Linked DNA regions of Homo sapiens. The protein of the gene in region 2 purifies or fractionates together with the protein of the main gene of each other region. This does not show direct contact. Each region holds a gene or a part of one and is shown on either strand. Other genes may lie near its edges. The genes, in order: RAD23B and PCTP.

Evidence for each region.
Region 1: the proteins of PCTP (region 2) and RAD23B purify together in Homo sapiens (affinity purification with mass spectrometry; one large-scale study listed by BioGRID and IntAct). This does not show direct contact.

What each region holds. Positions count from the first base shown.
Region 1 is NC_000009.12:107,328,254-107,330,783, reverse strand, and holds part of RAD23B (UV excision repair protein RAD23 homolog B), read right to left. Parts: intron 1,242-2,530; coding exon 1,128-1,241; 3' UTR 1-1,127. UniProt on the Homo sapiens protein: Multiubiquitin chain receptor involved in modulation of proteasomal degradation. Binds to polyubiquitin chains.
Region 2 is NC_000017.11:55,749,531-55,754,010, reverse strand, and holds the start of PCTP (phosphatidylcholine transfer protein), read right to left. Parts: upstream 2,961-4,480; 5' UTR 2,908-2,960; coding exon 2,767-2,907; exon of another isoform or gene 1-2,766. UniProt on the Homo sapiens protein: Catalyzes the transfer of phosphatidylcholine between membranes. Binds a single lipid molecule.

The DNA.
Region 1 (2,530 bases), on a different chromosome or scaffold from region 2:
CCAATGCAATAAAAGATGCTGGATTATAGTTTTGTCTACCATTTCTTTTTGAAAGCAATATTATACTAATGACTTTAATGGTAATACACTCTTATCTAATAAAGAAACACATTTACAAATATCAGAAACCCAGTTTTGAAACATTTGCATTAATTTTGAACTGAATCAGCATTTTGTGGGTTTTTTAAAAGGCAGCAGTTTGACTCACGACTTGCTGATAAACACGTTTCTGCTGAGGGAAGGGGAAAAGACAGGGAGAGTGAATGCTGCATTTCTCCATTGGCCCCAAAAGTGCTAATTTCACAAAGGGATACATCAAAAGCAAACATGCAATGGTTGTTTTAAAACTTTTACTGCAATATAACAATGAAGTAAACAGTAATTAGACACCTACCAATTTTTTCCCCAAAACAAAAAAAAAATGTAAACAGGAAAATAACTCTGCCTATACTTGTACAGCTTCTCAAATCATGTTAGAAGGGTCTCACATTCAATGATCAAGAAATTTTAAAATAGCAGTAATTATTTTCATTTTAAGAAAAGGTTCCCTTTCTCCCCTCCCACCCCAAGTATTTAACATGAAAGAATGGGCTTCCTTACATATTAATTTTATACTTATTTTTGAAGCAGCAACAATTAACCATCAATTTGGCATTTCTGTTTACAGTCGCTACAAAAATTTTTTAAATTTCACAAAGCCATTATCCAGTGTTGCCATGAAACAGAGACTGTAAATTCTAGGTAGCTAAGATTCTTTCTGAAACCAATGTTAAGTCAAAGAAATATAAAGCAGGGCATTACACTAAGTTTCTGGATCTAGTACACTAAAAAGAGTGAAACCTAGGAAAAGTTACCTACTGTTTTACAGAAGAAATAAAGACCTGCAAAAGCTGATTTTTGGTTGTATATATTTTACACACTGTGTGGAGTTGCGGCATCTGCTAATTGAAGCAGACATGCACTGTATTTATCCCTGCCCTGTATCCTAGATCCCTCCCTCCCCACCCCCAACAATCTACTACCTTATACCAAGTATTGTGGATATGAGCCCAAGTCATCCCAGACAATCCAGTGAACAAGTTAGTGTAATGCACTGGTGTGAAGTGTGAGATATAAAAAAGTCCCTTTCAATCTTCATCAAAGTTCTGCTGTAGAAGAAAATTGGCAGCCAAATTCTCATTCTTCTCACAAGCAAAATACGCTTGTATCACAAGTCCTTCAGGAAATCCTAATGCCTTTAACTGGAAGAAAAAGGAAAAAAATATAAATCCAACACACCAATTATGGCACATTTAATTTTATTTACATATTATAGATTCCAGCATAGCACTAAAGATAAATCATTACTCAAAAACATACTGCAACCCAAAAAAGCTCTTGAGAATTTTACATGAATTCATCTCTATCAATATGGATTTACTGCCCAACCCAAGGGATTAGATGGAATCTAGACCCTTTCCTTTACTAATCACCTAAAAAAGTCTTTGTTTCTAGTTAAAGCTTAATAGATACTATGCAAATACTCTTTGGCCTAATTAAAAATTAGCTGCTAACTGCTATGGTTTAAAAATAAATGACTCTACAGAAATATGTAAATCAAATGGCTTTTAGTATATTAAGAGTGAAGATAAGGATGAGAGTACCTGCAGTATAGTTTAACCACCTCACCTATTTCTAAATTAAAAGCAAATTATGTTTTATTTATTAATGTCAACTCATGTCTTTCATTTGGATCAAACATCACTCTCAATCTCCTTGCTTTATTCAACACTCCATACTAGAAAAACAGGTGACCAATTATTAGTAATACATGGTACATTTTGAAGATAATGTTCTATTTTTATCTGCTTAACAGTTACAGCATTTTAAATGGTAATACCAGCTACTTAATTTCATTTTCCTAGTCTATTATATTAAAAATCACTTGTGACAATACTCACTCCTTTTAAAAGCCTTTAAAAACTCAGCCAAATGTCACCCTCCTCAATTGTCTCAATCACCTTGAGTTAGATCACAGGTCCCAAACCCCAAGACCGTGAACTGGCACCAGCCATTGGCCTGTTAGGAACTGGGCTGCCCAGGAGCAGGTGAGCAGTGGGTGAGCAAGGAACTGGGCCGCACGGGAGGAGGTGAGCAGTGGGCGAACAAGTGAAGCTTCATCTGTATTTACAGCCACTCCCCATCACTCGAATTACCACCTGAGCTCCGTCTCCTGTTGTATCAGTGGCGGCATTAGATTCTCATATGAGCATGAACCCTACTGTGAACTGTGCATGAGAGGGATCTAGGGTCTGTGCTCCGTATGATAGCCTAACAAATGCCTGATGATGTGAGATGAAACAGTTTCATCCCAAAACCACCGCCCCACCCCACTTCCTAACCTAACTAACGCCTGATGATCGGAGGTGGAACAGTTTCATCCCAAAATCACTGCGCCCACCCCACCTATGTTGGTAGAAAAAAAGGTCTTCTACGTAACTGGTCCCTGGTGCCAAAAAGGTTAAAGACTGCTGTGTCAGATTATATTTGG
Region 2 (4,480 bases):
AATGAAAAAAACAGTTTGAGTTTTTTCTCCAACACAGTACTGTACTTCCAATAATGAGGACTCACCCTCCTAAGACGGTCCATCCCACATGCTGGAAGCTTTATTAGAAAAAGAGTGTGTGTGGCTTGGGGAAAGAGTAGGGGCTTCATGGGCAGATGGACTTGGATCTAAATCCCAGTTTTATTCACCACTTCTTAGCCGTGTGCTTTGTATATGCCACTGACTTTCCCTGGACCTCAACTGCCTCGTCTGTATACAGGGAAGATGGCACAGCGGTCTGGGCTCGCTAGAGGAGAAGATGTCAGGTCTATGGTAATGGGAGAGAATGATGGAAATGTGAGTTGAGACCAAATTAGTTCAGTGTACCCACCAGGCAGCATTTGCCTTCTGTTTGGAGAGGCAATGCAGGAGCATGTTGAAGACACAGGACTGGAGGCAGACAGCTGGGTTTGGATCCTAGCTGGAATCTTGAGAAACCAACTTAACCTTTCTATGCATTCATTTATATATAGGTAAAAAGGTGATCATCATAGTACCTTATCATAGGGTTGATGCAAGGATTGAGTAAATCAATACTTCCAAAACACTTAGCACCTGAATTATAAGAAATCATGCAATAAATGTTAGCTATTACAGTGATGATTATTATTATTTCTGCAATCAATAGGCCACTGAAAAGGTAGTGATAAGATCACTGCTTCTCAGATGTTTGACTGCACTGGAAGGTGTAGGATAGACAGGAGCAGAGAGCTGGTAGGCCAAAAACTAGTTAAGAGGTCACTGCAATTCTAAGTGAGGGGTGCTGAGTACCCAAAGTAGCAAAGATAAAGGAAAGAAAATGGGAGGAAATAAGCCAGATGCTAGACACGTCTGAGCAGTTGAATCAACAAAACTTGGCCAAAGCCTTGATGTGGCTGGTAAGAAAAATGGAATAGCAGAGAAGATAAAAGAATTTTGCCTGGCTGGGTGTGGTGGCTCATCCCTGTAATCCCAGCACTTTGGGAGGCTGAGGGCTGAGGCAGGAGGACTGCTTGAGCCCAGGAGTTCCAAGACCAACCTGGGCAACATAGCAAGGCCTCATCTCTAAAAAATAAAAATTAAAAGAAAGACTTTTTCTGAAAATGTATCAATTTTCAAACTAAGGTACCTTTTAAAGTTACCCTAAGAAATTAATTCTGCCTGTTCTAGACTGTGAACTTCTTGATCATCTTGTTAAACCCAATGGTCCTAGTACACAGCAAGCATTCAGAGTTTGTTGAGTGAGTAATCCATCAAGATATAACATCTGTATACAGAAAAAAAGTAAATATGGCAGCTTAGCCACTTGCAGTATCTGCTGTGTTCTGGATTATGTAAAGGCCAGCCCTACTAATTTGTAAGTATTCCAAATAGCATGTTTTACAGTCCCACTAACTGGAGAGGGACGGACTGCATCCAAAGCAAATATATATGTATTTAGACAGGAAATTTCTTCATAATACCTATATTCTCCATTTATTTAGAGTAGGGTTTCTTGACCTTGGCAATATTACAATTTGGGACTGGATAATTCTTCCCCGGGAGAGGTATGGGGTCACTGTCCTGTGCATTGTAGAGTTATTTACAGCTATCAAATTTTCACACATATCTGACAGATTGGATTTGAACCCCCTAACAACCCTGCAATGAGACAGGCAGAGTTTTCATTCCTGCAATGAGACAGGCAGAGTTTTCATTCCTGTTTAACAGGTGAGCAACTTCTAAATATTGCAAACGTTTGTTTTCTGTTTTAAAATATAAAAACACTATATTTGATGTAAACAAAAATGCAAGTGCCTAAAAAGGCAACCACATGTTTGACATTCACAAGATCATGAACCCTCCAATCCCACCTCTGCTATTCACTTATCTGGGCCATTTCAGGAGTGACTTCACCCTTGAGGCCTGTTGCTTTCACCTATGAAACCTGGGGTTTAACCAGGTGAGCATGAGGTATCCTCCTAACTCTAACACTATAATATCCTGGTCCTGTATTAGGAAACTTCAGTTTCACCCACATTACCTGCAGGCGACTTTTAACCTACTTGCCATGCTGCGACTATTACACAAAGCAACTGATGACAAGCCTTGGATGACAGGCCTCAGGGGCAATGCCTTCCACCTGGATGGCTACCTGATTCCAAAGACTTCAACAACCAATCCCATTCCTCCTACATCTTTACTCCTGCCTGAAGATTCGGACTCAACTTATTAAGAGCAACTTGGAAGGAAGGGGCAACAACCAAAAGAAACGAGTCACTAAAACAGTAGGGCCCTTCTCGGCAACCCCTGACACCACCCTGCACATCCAGTCCTTGAAAAGTTCTGTTTCTTTTCCTCCTATATCCAAGCCCTAAGATACCGCCCCTCCCCCACCCCAGCCCCCATATGCCACTGACACGCATTGGAGAGTGAGGATCAACGTCCCTTGCAGACGTGTGCACGGGCCTAGGAACCAGCTGACCCACGTTTCAACTGTCATTAACTTCTAACTACATGCCCCGTCGGGCCTGACCTGAGGCTGAACTCCTGTGACCTTCCAACTCCCCTGGATCTGCACGGCAGTCACTTGGAGGCACCGCCCCTGCGCTAGCTCCAGAGCTTGAGACAGGGTCCGGGCGGAGCTCCTTCCTGAGCCGGAGAAGACGCGCCCCTGTCCCTTCCGCGACTGCCGCCCCGCACTCCCTGCGGGGAGGTCGACCCCGGCGCATTCTAGGCCCCGCGGTCCTCCAGCGGGTTGGCCGCTACCTTGTCCAGCAGCCGGTAGATGCTGATGCCCGAGGTCTCCACTAGGAGCTGCCAGTCGGCCCCGGCCAGAGCGGGCTGCTGGAGCTCGGCGCAGGCCTCCCAGAACTGCTCCTCCGAGAAGCTTCCGGCGGCCAGCTCCATCCTTCCGCAGTCCGGGCTCCTCCGCCTGGAGGGCAGGCCGCGGACACCCTTAGTGTGGGCCTGGGGGCGGGGTGACCGGGCTGCCCCGGCTGCCCCGGCTGCCCCAGCGTCATTGGCAGGAAACTGAGGAGAAGGCGGGGCCTAGACTGGAGGAGCGGCCTGAGGGTGGGGCCCTGGAGGGGCGGGCCTAGAAAAGCGGGCGGGGCTGAGCAAGGAGTGAGGAGGATAGACAAGAAGTAAAAGGAGAAAAATTGGACTTGATGTGGGGAAGGAAGGAAGAGCTGGAGAAGTAAGGAGGCTTCCAGAGGGAAGGGAAAAAGGAAGGGAGACAGTGATGTCACCTCAAAAACAGCTCCTCAGTAGCCTATCCCATACTCCCTGCTACTCCCATAACCTACAGACCTGTTTGAGTGTCTCTCATTTACCTTTCTGAATAAAGTAGAGAAAGTCTCTTTGGTAGACATGAGAGGAGAGGTGGGCAGAGTAGAAATGCTGGAAAAATCCTAAGGGGTCAAATGCCAGAAGTGTATTTCAATATAATTTCTCTTCTTTCTGCTATACATTGTAAAACATTATTCTGAGACGAGGTCCATTGGATTCCCCAGAAGACTCTAGGGGTTCATAACACCAAAACAGTTTAGAAACCTAATCCATAATGGATCTACAAGGTTGTTGCCACCCTTGAGGGTAGAAACTGATCTGAAAGGTGTCGTACTATCCACCTAGGATTTCTGCAACTTGCATAATTTAGCTCACTGTGCAACTCAAACATCTTCTTGTTCCTTTGAAGTCCCTTGAGTAATACTGTATTTCCCACCAGCAGACTGTACTACCTGACTTTGAATAAAGTAGGTCGTTTGAACATCAAAACGATGTAACAGCCACGTGAGTGCCAATAAACTCTGGAAACTCATGTTTCCTAATCTGTAAAATGGGTCAAGAATTGTGCTACCAGTTACAGCTGAGGAGGTGGTTGGACAAGGAATAATTTTCCACAGTGCCCGTCCAAGTAAATGTTCAATAACAATTTCCACTTGTTTTGCATTACTATATTGAAATGCTTTTCTTTCCTTACTTGAAAGAAAGTTGATGGCAAAGTCTTAATTTATGTGATTTTCCAATCAGGCAAATGATCACATTTGGCAGCTTGCTTAGTTAGACACAGCAGAGATAAATAATTGCTTTCCTCAAGTCAGTCCTGGTTCTGTTTGGCTTTATAGGTGTGGAAAGAGGGATGTGAAATTTTCCTAGACTAAATGCACAAAAGTTTAGGCTAGACATACTTTCCCACTGTTTTATAACTCCTTGTAAATTTTCTATGTATTGTAAATCCATATTTTATTTAAATGGAAATTCATTGCTTGAAAAACCAATTGTGTAAAAACTATTGGCTATGAAGTATTTTCAAGTATCTTCAAGGAATCCATTATAAAGGTTTGATTTGATAAAGCTTTATTACTATATGGCAATAGACTAATGGAGACAAGCATAAGAACACAAACGACATCATGCAAGATATAAAGCACGCACTTCAAATTGTATTTATTGTATGTGTTTAAAAGTGTGTTGCCTA